Regions from separate parts of the Homo sapiens genome. Here region 1 is linked to region 2. The links come from fine-mapping of genetic effects on gene expression. Tissue or cell type: whole blood. Region 2 holds a variant in brackets; the other region holds the start of a gene. All regions are shown on one strand. Distances are from middle to middle. Region 1 holds the start of LINC01819 (long intergenic non-protein coding RNA 1819). Region 2 overlaps LOC107985876.

Region 1 (11,935 bases), 21 kb before region 2:
GTCAGGCAGAAGGTGACCTGATGGAGGAGCAGATTGGAGTGGTGCTCTTTGAAGATGGAGGAAGGAGCCACAAGCCGAGAAACTGAGCCAGAAAAGGCAAGAAAACAGATTCTTTTCTGGAGCCTCCAGAAGGAACCAGCCCGACTGACACCTTCACGTTAGCCCAGCGAGACTGATTTTGGGCTTCTGGCCTCCAGAACTGTAAGAGAATAATGTGTGTTGTTTAAGCCCCTCAGTTTGAAGTGGTTTGTTACCATGACAGCCGCAGGAATCAAATGCCCCCGACCTCTATCCTGTCCACTTTACCAGCCCGGCCCCTGCCAGGGTCTCCCGGGACCAAATGCTTGCCGGCCCTGGGCCCTCCTTAGAGCCTGTCTCTCTTGGCCTCCCATCAATATGTGATATTTTCTCCGTTGGTCGTTCTTAAATCTTGTGACAGCCCACTCCACTGGTGTTCCTCATGCCTTGATGCTCCTCCTTAGCCCCCTTCCAGCACTTTCCAGCCCCACCTCTTACCCCACCTTCAACATGGCCATGTGGCCCAGGGTCCTCTTCTGAACCCTCTTCTCACTCTCTGCTTTCTCTACTTCCCAGTGATAATCCCAGATCAAGGCCATGGGTCCACACCCTAATAACGATGGGTCCCTTATGCTCTTCTCAGCAAACAGGTATTAATATATTCCCTGCCTGTTGAAATCCAATTCACCTGTTCATCCCTCAATGCCCCACTCAAATGTCACCTCCTCCAGGAAGCCTCCCCTATCTGTCATGCCATATGCTTGTTAACAGTGTCCATCCGTCGACCCCATGGGATTGTGTGCCTAATTTATAAATTGAACTTAGAAGCTAGGATCTACAATATTTTGAGACATAGAGAGAAAAACTATGCTCACATAACTTTCATTGCAGCATATTGTTATAATTGATCTATTTTATTATTGTTGTTGTTCATCTCTTACTGTGCCGAATTTATAAAATCAACTTAGAAGCAGAGTCATGACCTAGTCAGCCCTGGACTCTCAGCACCCGGCACAGTGGAACCCAGCTCTGGGACATGCTCTCCCTCCTCACTGCCATAAACACCTGAGCAGGTGTTGGAGCTGTGGAAGCTGCCCTCTGCCATTCTGCTGCCTTCTGGCCTAGGCCAGGCTGTCACAGTGGGGTTCACTTCCCTTAAAGAATCATAAGAATAGATGTCAAGTTTCCATTCTGGCCACACTGGCCTCCTGACTCCTACTCCAACAGGCCATCCCCTGATGTCCCACCTGGGACATGAATCATTCCTCTCTCCAGCGTATCCATGCTGTGGCTGCCACCCACCTGCGTGTCCCTTAGGGGCCATCTGTCAAGGTATCATGGTGCTTGTGTTCAAGTAACCCTTGTTTTACCTTGTAATGGCCCCAAAGCACAAGAGTAGCAATGCTGGAAATTTGGATGTGCCAAAGAGAAGCCGTGAAGTGCTTCCTTTAAATTAAAAGGTGGAAGTTCTTGACTTAATAAGGAAAGAAAAAAAGTGTATATTGTGCCAAACAATGAGATACTATGCAGCCATTAAAAATTGTATTTTCAGGCTGGGCATTGTGGCTCACACCTGCAATCCCAGCAATTTGGGAGGTCAAGGTGGGCAGATCGCTGGAACTCAGGAGTTCAAGACCAGCATGGGCTACAGGGAGAAACCCCCGTCTCTACAGAAAACACAAAAATTAGCCATGCACGGTGGTGCACACCTGTGGTCCCAGCTACTTGTGGGGCTGAGGCTGGAGGATCACTTGACCCTGGGAGGTCGAGGTTGCAGTGAACCACGATTGCCCTGCTGCACGCCGGCCTGGGTGACAAAGTGAGAGACCCTGTCTCAAAAAATATACATAAATAAATCAAATAAAATTGTATTTTCAAAGACTATTTTAATGACCCAGGAAAATTCTTATGATATAATTTATATGGAAAAAAAAATCAAGATTTTAGATCTCAGATCTTAGCTCAGGTAGCTAGGATCTACAATATAACATTTTGAGACACATGGAGAAAGACCATACTCACATTACTTTTCTTGCAGCATATTGTTATAATTGATCTATTTTATTATTGTTGTTAATCTTTTACTGTGCCTAATTTATAAATTAAACTTTATCATAGGTATGTATGTATAGGAAAAAACATAGTGTATACAGGGTTCAATACTAACTACAATTTCAGACACCCACTGCGGGGCTTGGGCCATGTCCCCTGAAGATAAGAGGGGACTACGGTAACACAATTTATCAAAAACACATTGCTCCCAGACACCAAGAACTTTGCAGGGATTCACATCCTTTTACTTCATAATCCCACTTCTAGGACTTTATCCTAAAGAAATAATCAGAGGCTGGGCACGGTGGCTCACGCCTGTAATCCCAGCACTTTGGGAGGCTGAGGCGGGCAGATCACCTGAGGTCGGGAGTTCAAGACCACCCTGACCAACATGGAGAAACCCCGTCTCTACCAAAAATACAAAATTAGCTGGGTGTGGTGGCACATGCCTGTAATCCCAGCTACTCGAGAGGCTGAGGCAGGAGAATCACTTGAACCCAGGAGGCAGAGGTTGTGGTGAGCCGAGATCATGCCATTGCACTCCAGCCTGGGCAACAAGAGCGAAACTCCATCCCCCCCGCCCAAAAAAAAAGAGAGAAAGAAATAATCAGAGATGTATGCAAAGATGTATGTGTAAGAATGTTTATTAAATTATTATTTAAAATAATGAACAATTTTGAAACAGTTCACATGCCTAACACTAGGAAATTGGCTTAGTAACCACTGTACCGTACAATAGGATACTATGCAGCCATTTTACATCGTATTTTCAAAGAATATTTTAATGACCCAAGAAAATTCTTATGATGTAATTGATATGGAAAAAGATCAGGATTTTATATATACTATGTGTGTATGCACATGGTATTACCTCAGTTTCATTTAAATGTGTATGTGTATAGCAATAATGGTTATCTCCATTTAGTGTGATTATTATGGAGTATTTTCATTTTATTTCTTATACTTTTTCAGATTTTCCATATTTTTTACAATTAGCCTATATTTAGATTACAGTTTTTAATGCTATTAGTTTATTTTAATGGGGAAATAATTCATTGATTACTTGTCTGTTTTTCACTGAGGCAGGTGGAGTGGTGTGAAGGAAAGCTTGGGGCTGCCAAGCCAATGTATCTGCTCTTGGAGCCTGGGAGCTTCTTGGGTCCTGAGAGGCCTTTTATGTGTGTGAGGTGCCAGTTCTCTGAAATGAGTGCTGTGGCTTGGGGGTGCGCTGGAATATTTTTTATCAGGAGCCTGGACCAAGGGCTAGATCACTCTCCATATGTCATGGTGGGTCCTACCTGAAAGGGGAGGTCGTTTTCAAGATCAGGTACCTGAGGAAGAAGCGGGTCTTCAAAATAGAAGGTGAACCTGAAAAGAAGGTGATAAAAATTATGATGGGACAAAGGACTTGGTGGGGTCTCTGTCCCCTCATAAACCTCCACATAGGATGGACAGGAGTTGGGAGCCTCCAGAGGGTAACTGGTTAAGGTAGGACTAGGACACCCCTGCCTTGGGAAGCTGGATTGGGTTTACAGTTCTTCTGGGCACCATGTTTACGTCCTGTTGCCTTCCCTTCAGTGCCCTTATTAGTGCCATCTGGTCTGATCTTCCCAGGTTTCTTAGCTGTGCTTGTTAAAAGAAGCGAAAGACTGGGTTTCGGCCAGGTGTGGTGGCTCGCGCCTGTAATCCCAGCACTTTGGGAAGCCAAGATGGGCAGGTCACTTGAAGCCAGGAGTTCAAGACCAGCCTGGCCAACCCAGTAAAAATACAAAAAATTAGCCTGGTGTCGTGGCACATACCTGTAATCCCAGCTACTCAGGAGGCTGAAGCATAAGAATTGTTTGAACCTGGGAGGTGGAGATTGCAGTGAGCCGAGATCACGCCACTGTACTCCAGCCTGGGTGACAGAGTGAGACTCGGTCTCAAACAACCACCAAGGCTGGGTTTCTAGCTATGTTTGGCCCACAGAATTAAAAAAGTGGTGGCATCCCTGGGGCCCAGCCAGAAAGAAGCCGTGGGAATGAAGAAAAGTGACCCAAAGAGGAGAGTGCACAGAGGGAGGTGGAGTGAGGGCTGACTGAGCCAGCTGTCTCTCCTACCCAGGAATTCTTCCTGAGCTAAATCTCGGAGATTCTGGTTTGTAAAGTAATAGCTCTCCTTATATTTGTCTATTGTGTAAGTGCATGATTATGCTAAAAAAATTAAAAATTCAAATAAGGAAAACCAAAATAAAAACAAAGAAAAAGAAGCAATCTAAAATTACCCCTTAGCTCACCACTCGTCAATGTTTTATTGTATATCCTTCCAACGTTTTTCATAAATCAATGCTTTATTATTTATTTATTTATTTTTTTGAGACGGAGTTTCACTATTGCCCAGGCTGGAGTGCAATGGTGCAATCTCGGCTCACTGCAACCTCCGCCTCCCGGGTTCAAGCAACTATCCTGCCTTAGCCTCCTGAGTAGCTGGGATTACAGGCATGTGCCACCACGCCTGGCTAATTTTGTATTTTTCAGTAGAGATGAGGTTTCTCCATATTGGTCAGGCTGGTCTCGAATTCCCTACCTCAGGTGATCTGCCTGCCTCGGCCTCCGAAAGTACTGGGATTACAGGCATGAGCCACTGCGCCCAGCCCAATCAATGATTTAAAAATCAGATTATTTTATATACATCTCAGCTTTGTATTATTCTGTTCGTTATGCTATCTGCTTATTTCTATGTCATTAGATGCTCTTCTACATCATTTTTAAAGGCTCAATTGTGTTTTGTTTTCTGGATGTTTCACAATGTATTTAACCCATGCCCCATTTTTGGACATTTAGGTTGCTTCCGGTTTTTCAGGCTTAGAAGTCACAGTGAAGGACAACTTTGTGGCTAAATCTTTGAATGACCACCTATGTATATTCCCTGGAATAAGTCCCAGAAATAGACTCCCTGAAAGAAAGGACACTAGGGTTCGTTTCCATCCCTGGGCAGATCCCGAGGAAGGCTGGGTTGTTCTGGAGGTCTTGGCGCTGGGCCCTGCACTCCAAGCTTCAGGGCCTCCCAGACCCTTAGTGCACGTTCCACTACACTAAATCACCCCGCCCCTCCTCTCCCCACTCTGCCCCAGGCTTTGGACTCACCCAGGAGAATGAATTACACCTCCCAGCCGGACGTGAGGCCATTTGTCTTGTGCTCTGGAATCCTGATTAGATAAAATCTGAACAGAGCACATTTACTTATTTAGTGTATTTCTGGGTGGGTGGGTCCTAGCCCTTGGGGATCACCTTCTCCAGATCAGGGTGAAGAGTTTACAGAAGGGAGGAGCAGGTCACATATCCAGAGCAACCAGCTCAGGCATTCACCCTGCGGGGTCACAGGAACCCCACCGTCCCCAGCTCAGGCCCACTCCACTCCAGCTCCAATCTCCCCAGTCCTGCCTCCCCGCCTCCAGCTCAGGAAGCTTTAGGCGTTGGTTGCTCATCATATGGCTGAGGCTGGCAGAAAGAAGGACTAGGTGCCCAGTGATGTGGCCACATCGCACCTCTGGCGGGAAGTGGACTCTCTCCGACCCCCCTTGGGGGCTCTGGTGGCCTCTGCGGGACCTCGGGTTGTCTGAGCACACGCACCCTCGCCCTCTCTGGGACCTGATGCCTCGATTTAGGCTCAGACCCTGTAAATGCCCCTTGAGAGCCCTCAAGGATCCAGGGTTCTCTTGTCCTCAAAGAAGCAGAACATACCTGCTCACCAGCCTGCAGCTTGTCCTGTGTGTCCCGTCTCCTCAAGTACGGAGAGGCCAGGGCTTCCTGAATCTCATCAGATCCGAATCTCCCCAGATCTCATCAGGGCCTCTTCCCAGGAGACACCAACTCTCAAGGTCTGGAGACACACCTGGAACCTGTATTTTCCCAAATGGTCCTCCTGGCTCTTCCCACAGAACTGTCTTCTTGTCCCTGGTCTCCACTGATGGGGAACAAGGCATGTGACCCCCTGGGTCGGGCAGGCCCAAGGCAGGCGAGGCAGTGAGAAGCAGGCGAGGGGATAGGGCTGCTTGCTCAGGTAACTTGGGTTCAGGAGGTTTGGCAGCCGAGCTGCCTCTCCTGGCAGCGGGGCTTGGCCAAGGGCAATGTGCAGCCACACAAAGCCATCCTCACAAAGCCACCCTCACAGCCTCTCTGGCCGAGAGTCCCTGGGCGCTCACTTGCCGGGATGCACAGGCACGCCTCTGGCCAGGCCGGGCTGCGGGGGTTTGTGGCCTGGAGAATCAAAGAGCCGCCCTCAGCTCGGAGAACACTTCCTCTAGAAGGCTCTGGTAACAGCACACCGGGTCTGAGGAGAAAGAGCCTCTGTGGGCCACGGTGGGTCTTTGCCCACAGAGGCTCACACACCACCCCTCCTGTTCCAACACCACCCCCTGCCCGGCCCCAGTTCTCCTACCAGCCCAGGGGACTCAGGTGGGCCAGACCTTTTCACACTGCCCCTCCCACACACACCACAGCAAGAGGGTGAGCCTCCCTCTTTCTCTGCCGGGGTCTCTGGGGCCTCCCACGACGGGGGTGGGTGGTGCCATAAGCCCTGGGTGCCTGTGGGCGGTGGTCCCACGGATGCCCTGCTCAGTTCCAGACATAGTTGTTATTTGGACTTTTCACATCAAAGTAATTAATTAAATATGCAATAGAATACATTCTCTTCCTCAGTCAGTGGCAACCCCATCCCTTCATTCACTGAGGCCGAAACCTTGGATAGCCGTCCTGGAGTTTTTCAGACCCATGTCCAAACCACTGGAGCATCTTGTCAGCAGGATTCCAACTTCTTCCAGAGCCCACCCGCCTCTCACCACCTCTCTGTCATTTCCCACCTGGATGATTACAACAGTCCCTGTCGAGGCCCTGGCCCCACCACGCCACCAGTGGGGAGAATGCTTCCTCTAGAAGGCTCTGGTGGATTTGGGTGATGAGGGGGAGAGGGGTAGTCCCGGGCCAAGCCACACCAGTGACCCCACGTGTGTTCAGAACCCTCCTGTCTACATTTGATTTCATCTTGGCTACTCTTGTCAAGACATGCAGTTTGTTAGTCTTGAGCAAGTAAGAGTCCTTATTTGTATGCCCTCACATGTTATCACAAATCCCCCAGATTCTTTTTCAGATCTCATGCCCTAATTTGGGGTTTATGAAATCTACCATGCTGATAGGGATTCCTGTCTGTCATGGGGACTTTGAGCCATGACTCAGAACAAGACACTTATCAATCTGGGGCCTCTCCGAAGATGCTGAGACCAGGGCCAGTCTCAGCTGCAACGCCCTGCTTGGAAGCCACTATGGGATGATTCTGCAACAGATATCATGATGCAACAGATGCCCATGAATGACATGGGAAAGCTGGGCCCCATCGCCCAGGGGGACACTCCTGCTGTGCTCTGTCAGCAGGAGGGAGCCTCCTAGGAACTTCATCAGGACCCATTCTTTCTCTTTTTCTTTTCTTTTTTTTTTTTTTTTTTTGTGAGACGGAGTCTCACTCTGTCACCCAGGCTGGAGTGCAGTGGCTCAATCTTGGCTTACTGCAACGTCCGCCTCCTGGGTTCAAGCGATTCTTTTGACTCAGCCTCCTGAGTAGCTGGGATTACAGGCATGCACTGCCATGCCTGGCTAATTTTTGTATTTTTAGTAGAGACAAGGTTTCACCATGTCGGCCAGGCTGGTCTCAAACTCCTGACTTCAAGTTGTCCTCCCACCTTGGCCTCCCAAAGTGCTGGGATTACAGGCGTGAACCACTGCGCTTGGCCAGGACCCATCTTTGTGTGGGATCCCTGGCTCAGTGCTAGGACAGAAACAGGTTTTCCTTGGACTCTGTGGTGTGTGCTTGAGTGTATGTGGGTGAGTGTGTGTGTGATAACGCACCCTGCCCTGCCTTTCCCTCCCCACTCCTCCAACCTGGAGGTGACAGTCACAGGGCCCAGCCCCTCCCTGCCACCTTCCTGCCCCAGCCCCATCTCCATTCAGGGGCAAGTCCTGCTGTGGTGCTTAGAGTGCAGCTCTTTCAGGCTTTCCTTTCGCTTAGCCTTGATTTCCAGGCCACCATGATCAGACTGGGCTCCCAGGCAGCATCGGAGCATCCCCAAATCCAGGGCTGGGAGGAGCCAGGCCATCTTGTCCAAGTAAGGACTTGAAGTTCAGAGAGGAGAAGGCACCAAGCTTGTGTCACCCGCAGGTCCATGCAGAAGGGAGATTAGAACCCAGATCTGCTTTTCAGCCCAGGCCAGGCCTGCTACAAAAGGGCGGGAGGGGGCACCCAGGCTGAGGTGCTGGAATTAGCAGTTCTCTTTACCCTCAAATTAGCCCTGAGGCTGGCCCAAGCCCCTCCCTGCCAGCGTGCCCCTCTGTCTTCAGGAGCCCCCAGTGCCTGCCAGGGGCTTCTCCCCTTTTGCCAGCTTGCATCCATCCCCCACGGTTCCGTCTCTTGGCTGCTGCTTTTACAGGCTCCAAGCAGTGGGGAGGCTGATGGGGAGAGGGGGTCTGTGTTGGACTCAGCCAGACTTACTTCCAGCCAGTCCTCTTGCCCTCCCCTCCACAGACTGCCTAGAGACCAGGGAGCTCTCCCAACCCCACCCCTCGCCCCACTGCCACAGCTCTGACTCAGCCCATAAATTACCTAGGAATGGTCCGCTGACTCAGCCAGGAAGCCCAGAGCCCCCTTCCCCACCCTCAGGCCTCAACCCCACAGCTGGCTTTCATTCCAGAGTACTTGGCCCCCTCCCCTCAGGAAATTCCTGGAAAATATCAGGCTTCTTGGAGGGGAGATCTAACCACAGCCCCGGCAGGGAGCAAAGCCGCTGCAGCCTCATCCATCATTCTGCCCCTGCCCCTCCTCCAGCAGCTTGTGTGTTGCATGGGACTGAGCATGGAAGTGTCAGACCCCATAAAGTGATGGGTGCATGGCTCTGAGGGGAACTCCGGGGAGGGAGGAGAGAGGTGAGGCTGGCATGGGGTAGGGCAGTCAGGGCAGGCTGCTGGGAGGTGGAGGACTTTGTTTTGGGCCAGAAACGATGATAAAAACTGCTAAGTGCAGAAATGGAAAGCGTGCTTCAGGCCCAGGGGATGGCATAAGAAAAGGCTAGAGGTAGAAACCAACCGGTGTGTAGGGGGATGGGGAGGAAATTTGAGAATAAGCAGGGCTAGGCCAGTCGCGGTGGCTCATGCTTGTAATCCCAGCACTTTGGGAGGCCGAGGCAGGTGGATCACCTGAGGTCAGGAGTTCGAGACCAGCCTGGCCTACATGGCAAAACCCTGTCTCTTCTAAAAATACAAAAATTAGCCGGGCGTGGTGGCACACGCTTGTAATCCCAGCTGCTTGGGAGGCTGAGGCAGGAGAATTGCTTGAACCGGGGAAGCGGAGGTTGCAGTGAGCCGAGATTGTGCCACTGCACTCCAGCCTGGGTGACACAGCAAGACTCTGTCTAAAAACAAAACAAAACAAACAAACAAACAAAAAACAAAAACAGAATAAGGTCTAGAGGAGTGGCCGGACCGGAGAACCTGGGCTGATCAGGCCAGAGGGCCGGGGCCGGGGCCAGGCTGTGGAATTTGCAGGAAGTCTCCAAAGCAAAGGCCCAAGAGACTCTGGGAGACCTGGGAGCAAAGGAGAGCGTTTGGGGGCGGGGAGATGAATCTTGGACTAAAAGAACCTTGGCCAAGGAACACTGGTCCCTGCAACATCCTTGGACCACCTTGGGATCCCAGTGCCTGCTTCGACCTGAGGGGTGGGGCGGGGCATCTGATCATCACACTCCAGTCGGGGCAGAGGCAGGGCTCCGACTCTCAAGCAGCTCAGACTGAGGGACATGGCTGTGGCCTCAAAGAGCCCCCATTCTGAGGTGGGAACACAGCCCCTTCCTCAGGGAGCCCCCAGTTAAAGGGAGACACAGAACTCCCAGGCCCTTCCTGCCCCCCAGGCCTTAGTGTCCCCTCAAATCCGTTCCTCAGAAACCCCATTGGCTTTTGAGGGAAAGCCAAGTCCAATTCTCTGATAAAACTTTTCTTTTTTGGCTGCTTCCCCTCAGACAATACAAACTTATAAATGTACAAAAATTCCTGGCCAACCTCCCCCAGGAAGGATGGCTGGGTGATGGGCTGTGGCCTCAGTAATGGAGTCACCGAGAAGGGAAGCTGGCTGAGCAAAGGTACGGCCAGGGTAGGGGGGCTGTCCCTCCTGCCATCCATGGCAGAGGGGTGGACACCAAGCCAGGGTACTGTGGGGAAAGGTCTGCTGCGTCTCCAGCGTTTACCTACCCTTCCTGGGAACAGCAATTCTGCCATGGCCTGGCAGGAGTCAGGGAGGGGTGTGATGGATTCAGAGAGAAAGGTAGGGGCGCAGCCAGTCCGACGAAATGAAAGCAGAGAAAGAGGTGGAGAGGAGGAGGACACGGAGCAGAAACTCCTTGAAAGCAAGGTTTCCTCGTGGATTCTAGGCCCAGAAGCCAGGGAAGCTTCTTCATAAATGGGCGTCCCCAGGAAGGCCTCCTCATTCCCAGACTGGAGCTTTTGAGGCTCTAGTGTCTGTCAAAGCCCTCAAAACATTATATCGACATTCCCAGGTTACATGTGGGACCCCCCCTGACCTCATCCTGAGCCCCAGAGACAGAGCTGCCTTGGTCACTGGTGCATCCCAGCACCTGGTGTGTGTTGGGGGGTGGGGGGTCCTTCCCCCCCGCTGTCTGTCCCAGTGCAAAAAAGAAAGAGGGAAAGACTGGGCCACCGGAGGCCAGACAGGCCCAGCACGGATGTGGCCTCTGGGAAATGGCCCAGGGGCTTGCCCTCCTTCCCAGCTGGCTCTGGGAGCCTGAGCAGGGGCTGGCCCGCCCTCCCCTTTGTGACAGGGCAGGAGGGGGTTAGCCAGGTTACCTCTGTGGGCCCCAGCCCCTGAGGGGTGGTGGGTCTCTCAGCCAGGCTGGTCTGGGGAGCGGGGAGGGCATCCTGCCTCATTGTCACTGGCCCAGCGCATTTCCAGAAATTCTTCCCATCGGTAAGAAGAGGAAAGAGAGGCCAGGGCAGCCTCACAGGCCAAGTGGGAACCAGGTTTCCCGGAGCTCTCACGGCCCAGCCCGAGCTTGGGGCCTCCTGTCTGGGCCAAAGGGTCAGCTCAGCCCTGGGACGGGGATATGTCAGGAATAACTGGCCGGTGGACCCAGGACTCACCTTATCCATGCTGGGCCAGGCCGTGTTTGTGTTTGCAGGACAGAGACAGGAGGAAAGAGGCCTGGAAATGCCTGGGCTTCCCACAGGACTTATTTAACTCTAGCGTCAGGGAAGACTAAAGCTTATATTCATTCCACAGTATATACTGCCTCCCCTCTACCCTCATTTTAGTAGGTAGGTATAGTGTGAATGTGTGCAGGACATGTGTGCATCGTGTGTGTGCACGTAACCCGTGACATGTGTATTTTGGGCTAGTATAGATAGGTCTTGAGGGAAAGACAGAGGGCAATGTTTTTTCTTTCTCTTTTTTTTTGAGACAGGGTTTTGTTCTGTCACCCAGGCTGGAATGCAGTGGTAGGATCATGGCTCACTGTAGCCTCCAACTCTTGGGCTCAGGTGATCCTCTTGCCTCAGCCTCCTTGAGTAGCTGGAACTAGAGGCACACACCACCACATCTGGCTAATTAAAAAAAAAAAAAATTTGTAGAGGCAAAATATTGCTTTGTTGCCCAGGCTGGTCTGGAACTCCTGGCTTCAAGCAATCCTCCTGCCTTGGCCTCCCGAAAATTATTATTACTATTCTCCAGTAAAAAACATTTCCCTAGTGTGTTCTGCCTAGCACCATCCTACAGGGATGGCCCTCAATAAAACAGGTAGGTTCACAGGACCCTACACACCAACCACCCTAAGACT
Region 2 (11,935 bases):
CGCTGTGTAAATGGCTGCCACACGCTCCATTGTGTGAATGTGCAATCTGCCATTGACTGGTATCAGTTGTAAACAAGGCTGGGATAAGTGTCCTTATACTCACGCCTTGTATGAACTTAATATTATTTCCTTAGGATGAATTCCTGGTAGATTGCCGGGTCAGAAGGCATGCACATCTTTAGGGTTTGAGATCCACTTTGCTACGCTGCCCCCAGACTTGCATCAGTTCACCCCTCACCATTCTTGTGTGCCCACGGGCTGGAGGCTTTCACCAAGCCCAAAAGCCACTCATTTAAACATGTCCTGCCTCCTCCCTGGAGTCCAGAGAGCCATGGCTTTCCTGGCAGTGAGCAGAAGGAAAGTGTGCAGTAAACACGCAAGATAGCACAATGGCCACAGCTCTCTGGGCCAGGCTGCTGAGCCAGGGGCCACCACCCTCCTTCCGCCGGCTGAGCCTGAGCTTATCAGAGCAGCTGCTGGGGCCAGGGTGTCGCTGGTGCTGGCGACCCCAGCCTTTGCAGCCTCACCGCCAGCTGAGCACAGGAAGCAGTGGCTGCAGTGCATAAGTGACCAGCTGCACTGGCCCAGGAGTGTCAATGCAAGCCCAGCCAACATGAATGGGAATATGAACGGGTCATTAAAGCATGCAGCACTTCCTCCTCCTCCTTGGCCTCAGCCCTCTCTGCTAGGGCACCTGGCCTCTCCCCTGAGGCTCTTCCAGACTCCCCTTCCCCAAATGCCAAGGGGGTGTCTCAATGTTCAGGCAGGCTGTGGTATGTGCAGGGGTGTGGAAGAAGGAGGTTGGAATGGTCCAAGTGTCAAAGGCGTTCCCCGCTCTTTGAGATGAGGGCACAGTGTACATGACTTGGTGATGTGAAGAAAGCCTCAAGAAGTCCTCTATCCTGAGAGTGTCCCTAATTTCACCAATGATGGTGCCTGAAATGTCCCCATTGTACCCCTGCCTTTGTGTTCAACACTGAGCCACCCACCCATGCACATTCAGGGAAGGGTAGAGTCAGCATGAGGATGGGAAGTTGTAAGACCCCTTTCTCCTGGCAGGAAAAGGGAAAGAAGCTCTGCAGGAAGCTTGCTCCCCAACTTCCCAATCCAGCTGCCCGCCAGATGGGTCGGGTCAGCTGCTCCAGCCATTCTAACGCGGTCAGGCCCTTTCCCCACACCAGGGGAGACCCAGTACTCAGTTTTCCCCCAGTTCCTTCCTGCCAAGGGCCCGGCTTCTGCCAATGCCTCCAGGGCAGACACTGTGCAACTACTCAGGGGCAATGAGCAAGACACAGGCACTGGAATCCAGCAAAGGCACTCAATTTACTGGGTCACCTACGGTTTAGAGACTTAGTGACTATCTGGTCTCGGCGGCCACCCCTGTAAGACAGGACTAATAACATGTGCCTCCCAGGGGCCAGGCTCAGGGTGGGGGCCGGGGGAAGGGTGAGCGAGGCTGGATAGCTGCTCCTCCAGCCTGCCTCCCCTGCACAGATCAATGCCCCTAGCTCAGGCTCCTGAGCTGCCACACTTCCCTCACCCACTCTGAGCTCCTGCAGCCAAGGACAACTCGTGCCTTGATCTGCTTCATCGCCGGATCAGGGTCAGGTGCTCCTGGAGCCACAGGGCCCTAGAGTTCTTATAGGTCGTGCCTGCTGTCCTAGAAGCAGAGCCTGGGAGGGGACCCAGTGAATGTGGTTTATTGGGGAGTGTTCTCAGGAGCAGGGCAGTGAGGGAAGCGGGATGGGGCCAGGGAGAAACCAAGGCAAAGATGTGGCCTCTAGCTTCAGCTGGATCCCAAGGAGCTTGGGAGCACCATGGGATTGGTCCGTCCCACCTGAAGGCAAAGGGGCCAGCTCTGCTACCCTGGGTCAGACATTGGTTTTGGGGAATGGGGATGAAGTTGGGGAATGGGCATCTGGGAGGGGATAATCTCCCAGCTGGTCAGACAGGACAATTCTTCAGAGAAGCAGGCAGCAGTGAGCCTCAGCAGCCAACTCTCCCATAGCAGCTGGGATCTGCATCATGGGCTGGTGAAGGGACCTGGGCAGGCACCCACAGCAGTCACTGATGTACCCCACTCAGAGTTGAGGGGACCCCAGTGGGCCAGCCAGGTGCCAGTCCACACACTCACCTGCAGTCCTGCCTGGGAAGGGCAAGGCCCTGTCTCCAGATGGGCAAATGGGGGCCCTGGGAACTGGGGGGATGCAGGAGCAGCTGAGCCGGGACCAGAGTCCAGGCCGAATGACTTCACATCCAGAGCATGGTCTTCAACCTCCCCTGAAACCTCATGAAGCTGTGGGGAGTGCGTAAGTAAGTGGAGGTTTTTGGGGGAGAAAGTCCAGGAGAGTCAGGGCAAGAACTAAGCAGGGTTTCTAGTCCTCACCTGGTTTTTCCCATGGACAAATCACTGCCCAGGTGGCTGTGACAGGGATTCTGGGCTTGGGAAAGCCCAGAGAACCCCAGACAGGTTCCACACAGCCACCCACTATCCTCCCCTCTTGGGCTTGGTAAGGGGAGAGTGGCTGGCTGGGAGTCTGGGAGGAGAAGGTCCTGTCTCTCCTCATCTTGGAGGTGGGGCTGGGCACATCCAGAGTCACCCACCACAGGAGATTCAAGGGCCGAACCCCACAAGCTGCCAGAACTCCACAAGCTGCCAGGTTTTTCCCATGGATAAATCACTGACCAGGTGGGTGTGAGAGAGATTCTGGGCTCAGGAAATGCCCAGGGAACCCGAGACAGGTTCCACACACCTGGCCACCATTGACACATATGACACTTTTGTGTAAATTAGAAGAAGGCACCCTCACCAGGGAAGACAAACCAACAAAAAAAATTCCCTTTATGCCGGTGAACTTCAGAAAGGGCCCTTTCTTCAGCGTGGGCCTGCCCTGGCCCTCCCCAGCCCCCACACCCTGCCAAGCCTTGGTTCTGCTAGGTCTGTCCCAACTCAGCCAGCCAGCACTGCCCCCCACCCATGCCCTACCCTGCCCTATGGGGACAACCCCACCATCCACCCTGGGCCGCCAGAAACTGAGACCTGTTTCCAGGGTGACAGAGGGAGCAGGAAAAGACTGGGATGTGTGCCTTAAGGCTCTGAAACCCTGAACTAGGGCAGAGATGGGGCAGCATCTCAATGAAGCCGCTGACAGATTCTAGGCCTCACGCCAGCTGCACACCAGACCTGGCAGGGGACCCAGGCTGTGCCAGGCTGACAGGGCTGGTGGAATCAGGGCTGGGGAGCACACGGAGGCCACCCAGCCACCCTGGCCACAGAGGTGCCCCAAAGGCAGCAGAGGCTGAGGGACGTGAGGGTCCTGGGAGACAGAAAGCCCGAGTCCTCACTTAATGCAGGGGCATCCTCTGAGCCCTGCCAGGGGCCAGTGGCAGCTGGAGAGGCATCCAACTCCATCCTGCCCCAAGGGGGCTGGGCATCTCCTTCCCTCCACCCAGCAGCCTGGTTGCTCACCTCAGCACGGCTGTGGGGACGGCCGAAGGCACTAGGGGAGGGGGTCCTCTACCGAGTGCAATCCCGCGGTCCTCGGTCCTGCCTGGCCATCAGTCACCCGGGCAGCGTCAGGCTCCCACTGGATTCCATCAGCCTGCAGTGGGGTCCAGCATCGTTTTTTGTTTTCTTTTTAAGGCTCTAGGAGATTCAACTCTGCAGCCAGACAGGTCAGGAACTACTGAACTGATCAATATTGTCCCTATCGGAATGTGCCTGCTGTCATCACCACAGTGAGTGTCATGGTGTGGATTCTGACTCAGGGCTCTCTCCGCCTCACACTCCCCACACACTCAACATGGCCTGAATACCTCCAGAAATGGGATTCCTGAGACTCCACCGGGGGATCAGGTGGCCAGGTGGTGCTGCGGCAAGCCTGCTTCACATACTTCCTCTCCCAGGTGAACTCCTGCTGCTCTCTCCCTGCAGCCAGCCCCCTCCTGCTTCCTGAGCAACCCCCGCGTGCCCAGATCCTCTCAATCCTCCCTGCTTTCTGTCTCCTGTGAGGGGATGGAGGGAGGGATACGGTTCCAAATTCTATTCCTGCAGGTCAACAGCATCAGCATGGCTTTCCCAGCATGAAGTGGGTCGTTCTTCCAGGCCCACTGGGGGAATTGGAAGCCGCAGGGCAGACTCAGGGAATCACTGGAGATGGTGCAGTGACCTTTAAGTAGCGCTGCGGGACCACCAAGCTCCGGAACTCAGGCTACCCCCATGGACGCCCCCCCAGGTCACTGTTCTCTGCTTCTCAGGCTGGGGCAGTGGCTCCCCATTTCAAAGGTCCCTCTGCCCCAGGGGACTTTCAATCCCTTCCTCAGTGCCCACCCTGGTTTGAAAAGCTCTAATGAGGAGGCCACTGTGTTCACTGCAAAAGAGAACCCCTGGAGCTAGTGAAATCTGAGTCCTGGGCACAGCCTGGATGCAAAGCTTTTCTGAGTTCTCACAACCTGCACGAACACATACGTGGGAAAGTGTCTTAGAGCACGTTCATTTTTCTCTGGCAAAACCTAATTAACACGCAACGCCACCTTCCTCAGGAATCTGCTGCGTGCTATCATTGCAATTCCTAAGAAAGATTTAGTGAAAATTCTCTGGCTTTCCACGGCAGGCCTTGCTCATATTGTGAGTGTGTTTCTTACTCTCTGGACTCATGTCAGCAAGAAAATCAATGTCTTCCCAAGAGATGTGTGGATGATAAGGCTTCTGTTTCCCAGTAAAGTTTATGAACTAAAGCTCCCCCAACACACCCACCAGTGCACCACCCTCTATGGCGGGGGTCCACCTCCGCTTCACCACTCTCTCTTTTTCCCCAACAGCCCAGCCAAAAGGAAGTCAGAATTATAGCAGTGCAGGGAAGGACCAGGGGGCAGAGCCAGAAGTGTCATGGGAGTGAGCAAGACTGGCCTAATGGGCAAAGCCTGACACCAGCAGGAAGAGTGATAGTCCGGGGAGGTAGGCTGGTGGCACCTGGGAAGTCTGGGGCCTCAAATGGCCAGGTAGGGATCATCTCAAATGATGGAGGCCCCAGGGAGTCAGCACCCCAGAACCCAAGAGGGCTGGGGCCTTGGCTTGGCAGAATAATTGTACACATGCCCGGTGCTTTTCTACGTGCTTTATGTTGCTTAGTTCATTTAATCTTCCCAACAATTCTGTACTACTTTCACCCCCATTTTACAGACACGGTAACTGAGGCACAGAGAGACTACGTTGCTTCCTTAGAGTCATACAATTGATATGTGAGAGTCAGGATTTGAGCCCAGGTAGTGTGGCTCGGTGCCCACCCACTAAACCACCACACCACAACCCACATCACAACTCAAGCACACGGCGGAGAGGAGGAAGAGGAGGAGGTGGAGCAATAGTAACAGTCCTGGACCCAGTTAGCAGATGTTCAGGTTACTATGGCTTTGTAACTCCAAAACTTAATGGCCTAAAATATCATCAATGACTAATTTCGCTCCTGAATCTACAGTTTGGGCAGGGCATGGTGGGAAGGTTCGTTTCTTCTCTGCAAGGTGGTAGCTAGGGCAGCTCATCTGCGGACTTGAGGGCCCACTTGTAAGATGATTCAGGCAGTCAGCGAGAACTGGCTGCTGGCTGGGAGCTCAGCCAGGGCTGAGAGCTGGGGCCTCCGTTCCTCTCCACATGGGCCTCTCCACAGGCTGCTCACCCTCCCTCTCAGTACCGTGGCTGGATTCCAAGAGTGAAAACCCCAAGAGACAGGAAGTAGAAGATGACAGTTTCTGAAAGCCTAGGCCCAGAGCTGGCAGCAGCATCACTTTTGCCATATTCTATTATGTGAAGCAGTCACATATTCCAGATTCAACAGGAGGGGATATAAAATTGACCTCTAGGCCGGGCGTGGTGGTTCACGCCTGTGATCCCAGCACTTTGGAAGGCTGAGTCGGGCGAATCACCTGAAGTTGGGAGTTCAAGACCAGCCTGACCAACATGGAGAAACCCCGTCTCTACTAAAAATACAAAAATTAGCCTGGCGTGGTGGTGCATGCCTGTAATCCCAGCTACTTGGGAGGCTGAGGCAGAAGAATCACTTGAACCCGGGAGGTGGAGGTTGCAGTGAGCAGAGATCGCGCCATTACACTCTAGCCTGGGCAACAAGAGCGAAACTCCGTCTCAAAATAAAAAAGCAAAAAAAAAAAAAAAAAAAAAAAAAAAAAAATTGCTGATCTCTAGATGGAAAGAGTGTTGGAATTTGGGGGCCAGGTTTTAAAACTGCCACATGGGGCGTGGGATCCAGAGGAAGGGCTGGATTCCAGGTATGAGGGCAAAGTGGCTGTTTGATCTTGCTCAAAGGTAGACTAAAGGGAAGATAAATTGACTGTAACACTCACCAAGTCCCCAGCATGTACCAGGTGTTGGCCCTCATGGGCATTATCTCAACTTACCTTTGCAAGAACCCTCTGACACAGATTTTTCACCACTCTTTGTAGATGAGTACTCTGAGGCTCAGAGAGGGTGTAAGCCTTATCCAAGGTCACATGCTGGTGAGTGGCCAGCTTTTCCAATTCCAGAGTTGACCCTTTAACTCCTCTGATGGGTTGCCTCCAGATAAGGAGCAGGGCTGGCCCCAGAGATGTGGCAAGGTGGGTCAGGATAAGGTAGGAGAGCAAAGAGCCAGGCTGTCACTCCCCATCCACTCACCTCCTCCTCCAGAAGCCCTCCCAGGCAGGAAAGGGTCCCAAGACACCCTGTCCCAAGGACCCTTTCCCTCTGACACCTCCTCAGTCTGGGATGTGCACCGAGCTTCCCCTCCGCCCTGTCTCCCAAGCTGTATTTCTCACCCCTGAGCAGTTCCCCAAATCCTCCCTTGTACTTCCTTGAAACCTTCCCAGGGCATTCTCCCAATTCCACCTGTCTTAGCCATAAGCTGTGAATAATTACCAATGTAAGGCTTTCAATTTTCGATATAAAATTTTTACTTTAGAAAAGTTTTAAAGAAAAATGGCAAAGATAATA[C/T]AGAGAGTTCCCATATTCTCCACACCCAATTTCCCCTATTATCATCATCTTACATTTAGTACGGTACATTTGCCACAATTAATAAACTGCTATTGATATCAGCCCTACAAGATTAACATTATTATTAAACTATGTTCATACTTTATTCAGATTTCCTTAGTTGTTTTTTTTTTTAACCTAATATCCTTTTTCTGTTCTAGGATGCAGCATTACATTTGGCCATCATGTCTTCTTAGGTCTCCCTTGGCTGTGACAGTTTCTCAGACTTTTCTTGTTTTTGATGATCTTGATGATTTCAAGGAGTATTGGTCAGGTATTTTGTAGAATGTTCCTCAGCTGGGATTTGTCTGATGTTTTAGGTTATGGGTTTGAGGGAGCAAGACCTCAAAGGTGAAGTGCCACTTTCATTACATCCTATCAAGAGTATATGCCACCACCATGACCTGTCACTGTCGATGTCAACTGCGTTCACAGTTAACAGAAGTAGTGTTTGTCAGGTTTCTCCACTATGAAGTTATTCTTTCTTCCCCTTTCCGTGTATACTGTTTGGAGGTAAGTTGCTATGTGGAGCCCACATTTAAGGAGCAGGGAGCTATGCTCATCCTTGAGTATCTGTGAATATCATCTGCAATTCTGTATTTTTGTATCTTCTCCCCCTTTTCTCTATGTAGCCATTTATTTATATAAGTTCAAACTCATGGATATTTCTCTTTTTTTTTAGATGGAGTCTTGCTCTGTTGCCCAGGCTGGAGTGCGGTGGCATGATCTCGGCTCACTGCAACCTCTGCCTCCTGGGTTCAAGTGATTATCCTGCCTCAGCCTCCTGAGTAGCTGGGACTACAGGTGCCTGCCACCACACCTGGCTAGTTGTTTGTATTTTTAGTAGAGATGGGGTTTCACCATGTTAGCCAGGATGGTCTTGAACTCCTGACCTCATGATCTGCCTGCCTTGGCCTCCCAAAGTGCTGGGATTACAGGCGTGAGCCGGGATATTTCTCTTCTACTTTGGGTAATTATCCAATACTACTGTATTTATTTTATTGCTCACTTTGTTCCAGCTTTAGCCACTGGAGCTCTACCAGTTGTCTCCTGTGTCCCTTTGACATACTCCCATCATTTCTTCCTCAGATCTTCCTTACTTTCTGGCACTACAAGATGTTCCAGGTTCATCTTGTACATTTCCTGTTCCAATCCTAGAATCAGCCATTTTTACAAGAAGCCCTGGTTTTTGTGGGGGTTTTTAAAATTGGAGAATGATATTAGAAGCCAAAATCTGAGCACTAAGTGTGCTCACAGCTACTGGGCTGTCATTACTTCTAGGCCCTCTTAGCTGACAGAGCATAGAAATACATGTGTATCTACTAACCTGTATGTATATCACAACAGATATACACAAACATATAAATATTCCTATATGTCACTATCTGTATCTATATTAAACTTGATTTCTTTTTTTTTTTTTTTTTTACTTTTTTTTTTTTTTATTGATCATTCTTGGGTGTTTCTCACAGAGGGGGACTTGGCAGGGTCATAGGACAATAGTGGAGGGAATGTCAGCAGATAAACAAGTGAACAAAGGTCTCTGGTTTTCCTAGGCAGAGGACCCAGCGGCCTTCCACAGTGTTTGTGTCCCTGGGTACTTGAGATTAGGGAGTGGTGATGACTCTTAACGAGCATGCTGCCTTCAAGCATCTGTTTAACAAAGCACATCTTGCACCGCCCTTAATCCATTTAACTCTGAGTGGACACAGCACATGTTTCAGAGAGCACAGGGTTGGGGGTAAGGTCACAGATCAACAGGATCCCAAGGCAGAAGAATTTTTCTTAGTACAGAACAAAATGAAAAGTCTCCCATGTCTACTCCTTTCCACACAGACACGGCAACCATCCGATTTCTCAATCTTTTCCCCACCTTTCCCCGCTTTCTATTCCACAAAACCACCATTGTCATCATGGCCCGTTCTCAATGGGCTGTTGGGCACACCTCCCAGACGGGGTGGTGGCCGGGCAGAGGGGCTCCTCACTTCCCAGTAGGGGCGGCCGGGCAGAGGCGCCCCTCACCTCCCGGACGGGGTGGCTGGCCGGGCGGGGGGCTGACCCCCCCACCTCCCTCCCAGACGGGGCGGCTGGCCTGGCGGGGGCTGACCCCCACCTCCCTCCCGGACGGGGCGGCTGCCGGGCGGAGGGGCTCCTCACTTCTCAGATGGGGCGGCTGCCGGGCGGAGGGTCTCCTCCCTTCTCAGACGAGGCAGCTGGGCAGAGACGCTCCTCACCTCCCAGACGGGGTCGCGGCCGGGCAGAGGCGCTCCTCACATCCCAGACGGGGCGGCGGGGCAAAGGCGCTCCCCACATCTCAGACGATGGGCGGCCGGGCAGAGACGCTCCTCACTTCCTAGATGGGATGGCGGCCAGGAAGAGGCACTCCTCACTTCCTAGGTGGGATGGCGGCGGGGCAGAGACGCTCCTCACTTTCCAGACTGGGCAGCCAGGCAGAGGGGCTCCTCACATCCCAGACGATGGGCGGCCAGGCAGAGACGCTCCTCACTTCCTAGACGGGGTGGGCAGAGGCTGCACTCTGGGCACTTTGGGAGGCCAAGGCAGGCGGCTGGGAGGTGGAGGTTGTAGCGAGCCGAGATCACGCCACTGCACTCCAGCCTGGGCACCATTGAGCACTGAGTGAACCAGACACCGTCTGCAATCCCGGCACCTCCGGAGGCCGAGGCTGGCGGATCACTCGCGGTTAGGAGCTGGAGACCAGCCTAGCCAACACAGCGAAACCCCGTCTCCACCAAAAAAATACGAAAACCAGTCAGGCGTGGCGGCGCGCGCCTGCAATCGCAGGCACTCAGCAGGCTGAGGCAGGAGAATCAGGCAGGGAGGTTGCAGTGAGCCGAGATGGCAGCAGTACAGTCCAGCTTTGGCTCGGCATCAGAGGGAGACCGTGGAAAGAGGGAGAGGGAGACCGTAGGGAGAGGGAGAGGGGGAGGGGGAGGGGGAGGGAGAGGGAGAGGTACCTTTTTTTTTTTGAGACGGAGTTCCGCTCTTGTTGCCCTGGATGGAGTGCAATCTAAACTTGATTTCATACTAATATTACAACTCTAATAAATTATCACAAGGATCATTCTAGCCTTCTCCCCTTGCCTGTCTGTAACCTTCCACTCCCACAGTGAGAAACCTGTCTGTTACCATCCACTATCCATTGACTTACTCATTCAGTTCCAATACACATGTATAGTGGTACTGGAATTGTTAACCACACTCCATGAGAAGCTACTTTATCAACTAGAGTATAGTGCTTAGGCACAGTTTCTTTAGTCTTTAGTCTTATAGACTCCACTCATTTCCAAAGTTGCTTAGATCAAAAACTCCCACCCCTCCCCCACTTCAGTGAAGTTGTTTTACATGTTTTTAATCCAGTTAAATAGTTTTGTCACATTTTGCATTCCATCTTCGTATCCTCTGATCTCCTAAATGATTCTTTTATTTTGTGTAAAAATGTACTCTTTGTGCTATACATTTCTACAGGTCTTGACAAGTACATAGTGTCAGGTATCTACCTGCAATATCATACAGAATAATTTCACCCACCTAAGAAAACCCCTGTGCTTCACCTATTCAACCATACCCCAACCCTCAAGAACCCTTCCATTTTAAGCATATTTAAAAGGTTTTTCAAAGCCTATTTGATGCACATTATCTCATTTAATTTACAAAGCAACCCTGTGTGTTAGGAAGAGCAGAAAACATCATTCCCACTCTATAGAGAAGGAGACTGAGGCTTAGAAGTATTAACAGGCCTGCCTTTGGCCACATGGTTAGTATGTGCAGACTTTAGACTGGCCCTGCTGCTTTATTCCTGCTCTGCTCAGGCCAGGAGTGGTTCCCGAACCCAAGACATAGAGAGAAGGGGGGATTGGGTTTGCAATCAGGCAGATAACAAGGCCGTAATGAAAACAAGCCTTGGGCTGACAGAGGGACATCTGAACTCTAGTTCTGGTTCTGCCACCCATTCACTGGGCAGCCTTGAATAAGTCACTTTCCTTGGCTGGGCCTCAGTTTTCTCCTATATAAAGTGAGAGATGAGATGACCCTCGAGGTCCCATCCAAGTCTCGCAGGCTATGTCTGGCCTTTGGCATGAAGATGACTACAGTCAACAGCGAGGCTTGACAGGCAGGCAGGGGAGATGGCTGGAGCAGTAAGGTTCAAGTCCACCACAGAGGAGCAGGCCCACATAGGCCAGTGATGAGTGGCACTGGGGTCACCATTGGTGTGCCTAGGGTGGCAGCTCCCAAGGCTACTCCAGGCCCCACTTCCAGCAAGCTCTCTAGGTGATGAAACCACAAATGCTTTTATATCCCCTTCCATGGTTTATGACAGTGTTTCTGAAACTGTAGTTCAAGACCCAGTGCATTATGATCTGTGATTTTTTAAAAAATAGAAAGAAACAGAACAGGATAGACTAGATCAATGCATTCAACAGAATATAACAGATAAGTATAAACTTTTGTTTCGATTATATGTGTGAGTAATAGGTCAAAATTTTACATGTATTGGTCAAACAAGATGTGATCACTGGCTGACAGAATACATTTTACATCTCAGTCTCATCTATCCTTACTGTAACCCTGTGAAGAGGGACGATTATTAGTACCATTCCTATTCTCCAAGTATGGAAAGTGAGGCCCAGAGAGGGCAAATGGTGCGCTTATGGCCCCCAGTTAGTGAGGGGCAGGGCCATGAGGAACACACCGTCTCCCGGACCTAGCTGGGGATTTCTTCCTTTAGCCCCACACAGAATTGTGGCACTTGTCTGCTTCTCAAAGTCCCAAGGGGAAAAGGTCCAGGTGTGAAGGTGTCTGGGCCCATAAACCTGGCCAGCCCCACCTTGGCTTGGCAGGATGAGGGGTCACATAAGCTCAGTGGTAGTTCAGCCAGGACCAGGTTCTGCCAGG

The links. PIP is the estimated chance that this variant, and not a neighbour inherited with it, causes the effect.
Region 1: LINC01819 starts here. The variant in region 2 is fine-mapped to the expression of LINC01819 in whole blood (TOPMed, PIP 0.94).

What each region holds. Positions count from the first base shown.
Region 1 is chr2:43,033,328-43,045,262 of GRCh38, forward strand. It overlaps LINC01819 (long intergenic non-protein coding RNA 1819), which reads right to left and starts at 6,216. Exons shown (of 6, transcript NR_110585.1): 1 at 5,793-6,216; 2 at 3,369-3,438; 3 at 1,728-1,825. RefSeq lists enhancers at 7,676-8,618, 8,619-9,560, 8,623-8,917, 9,561-10,502.
Region 2 is chr2:43,054,072-43,066,006 of GRCh38, forward strand. LOC107985876 reads right to left here. Exons shown (of 3, transcript XM_047446566.1): 3 at 9,974-11,935. Among named protein-coding and RNA genes, the nearest start is that of LINC01819, 20 kb to the left of the region's middle. The variant C/T (reference allele first, on the strand shown) is at 6,983.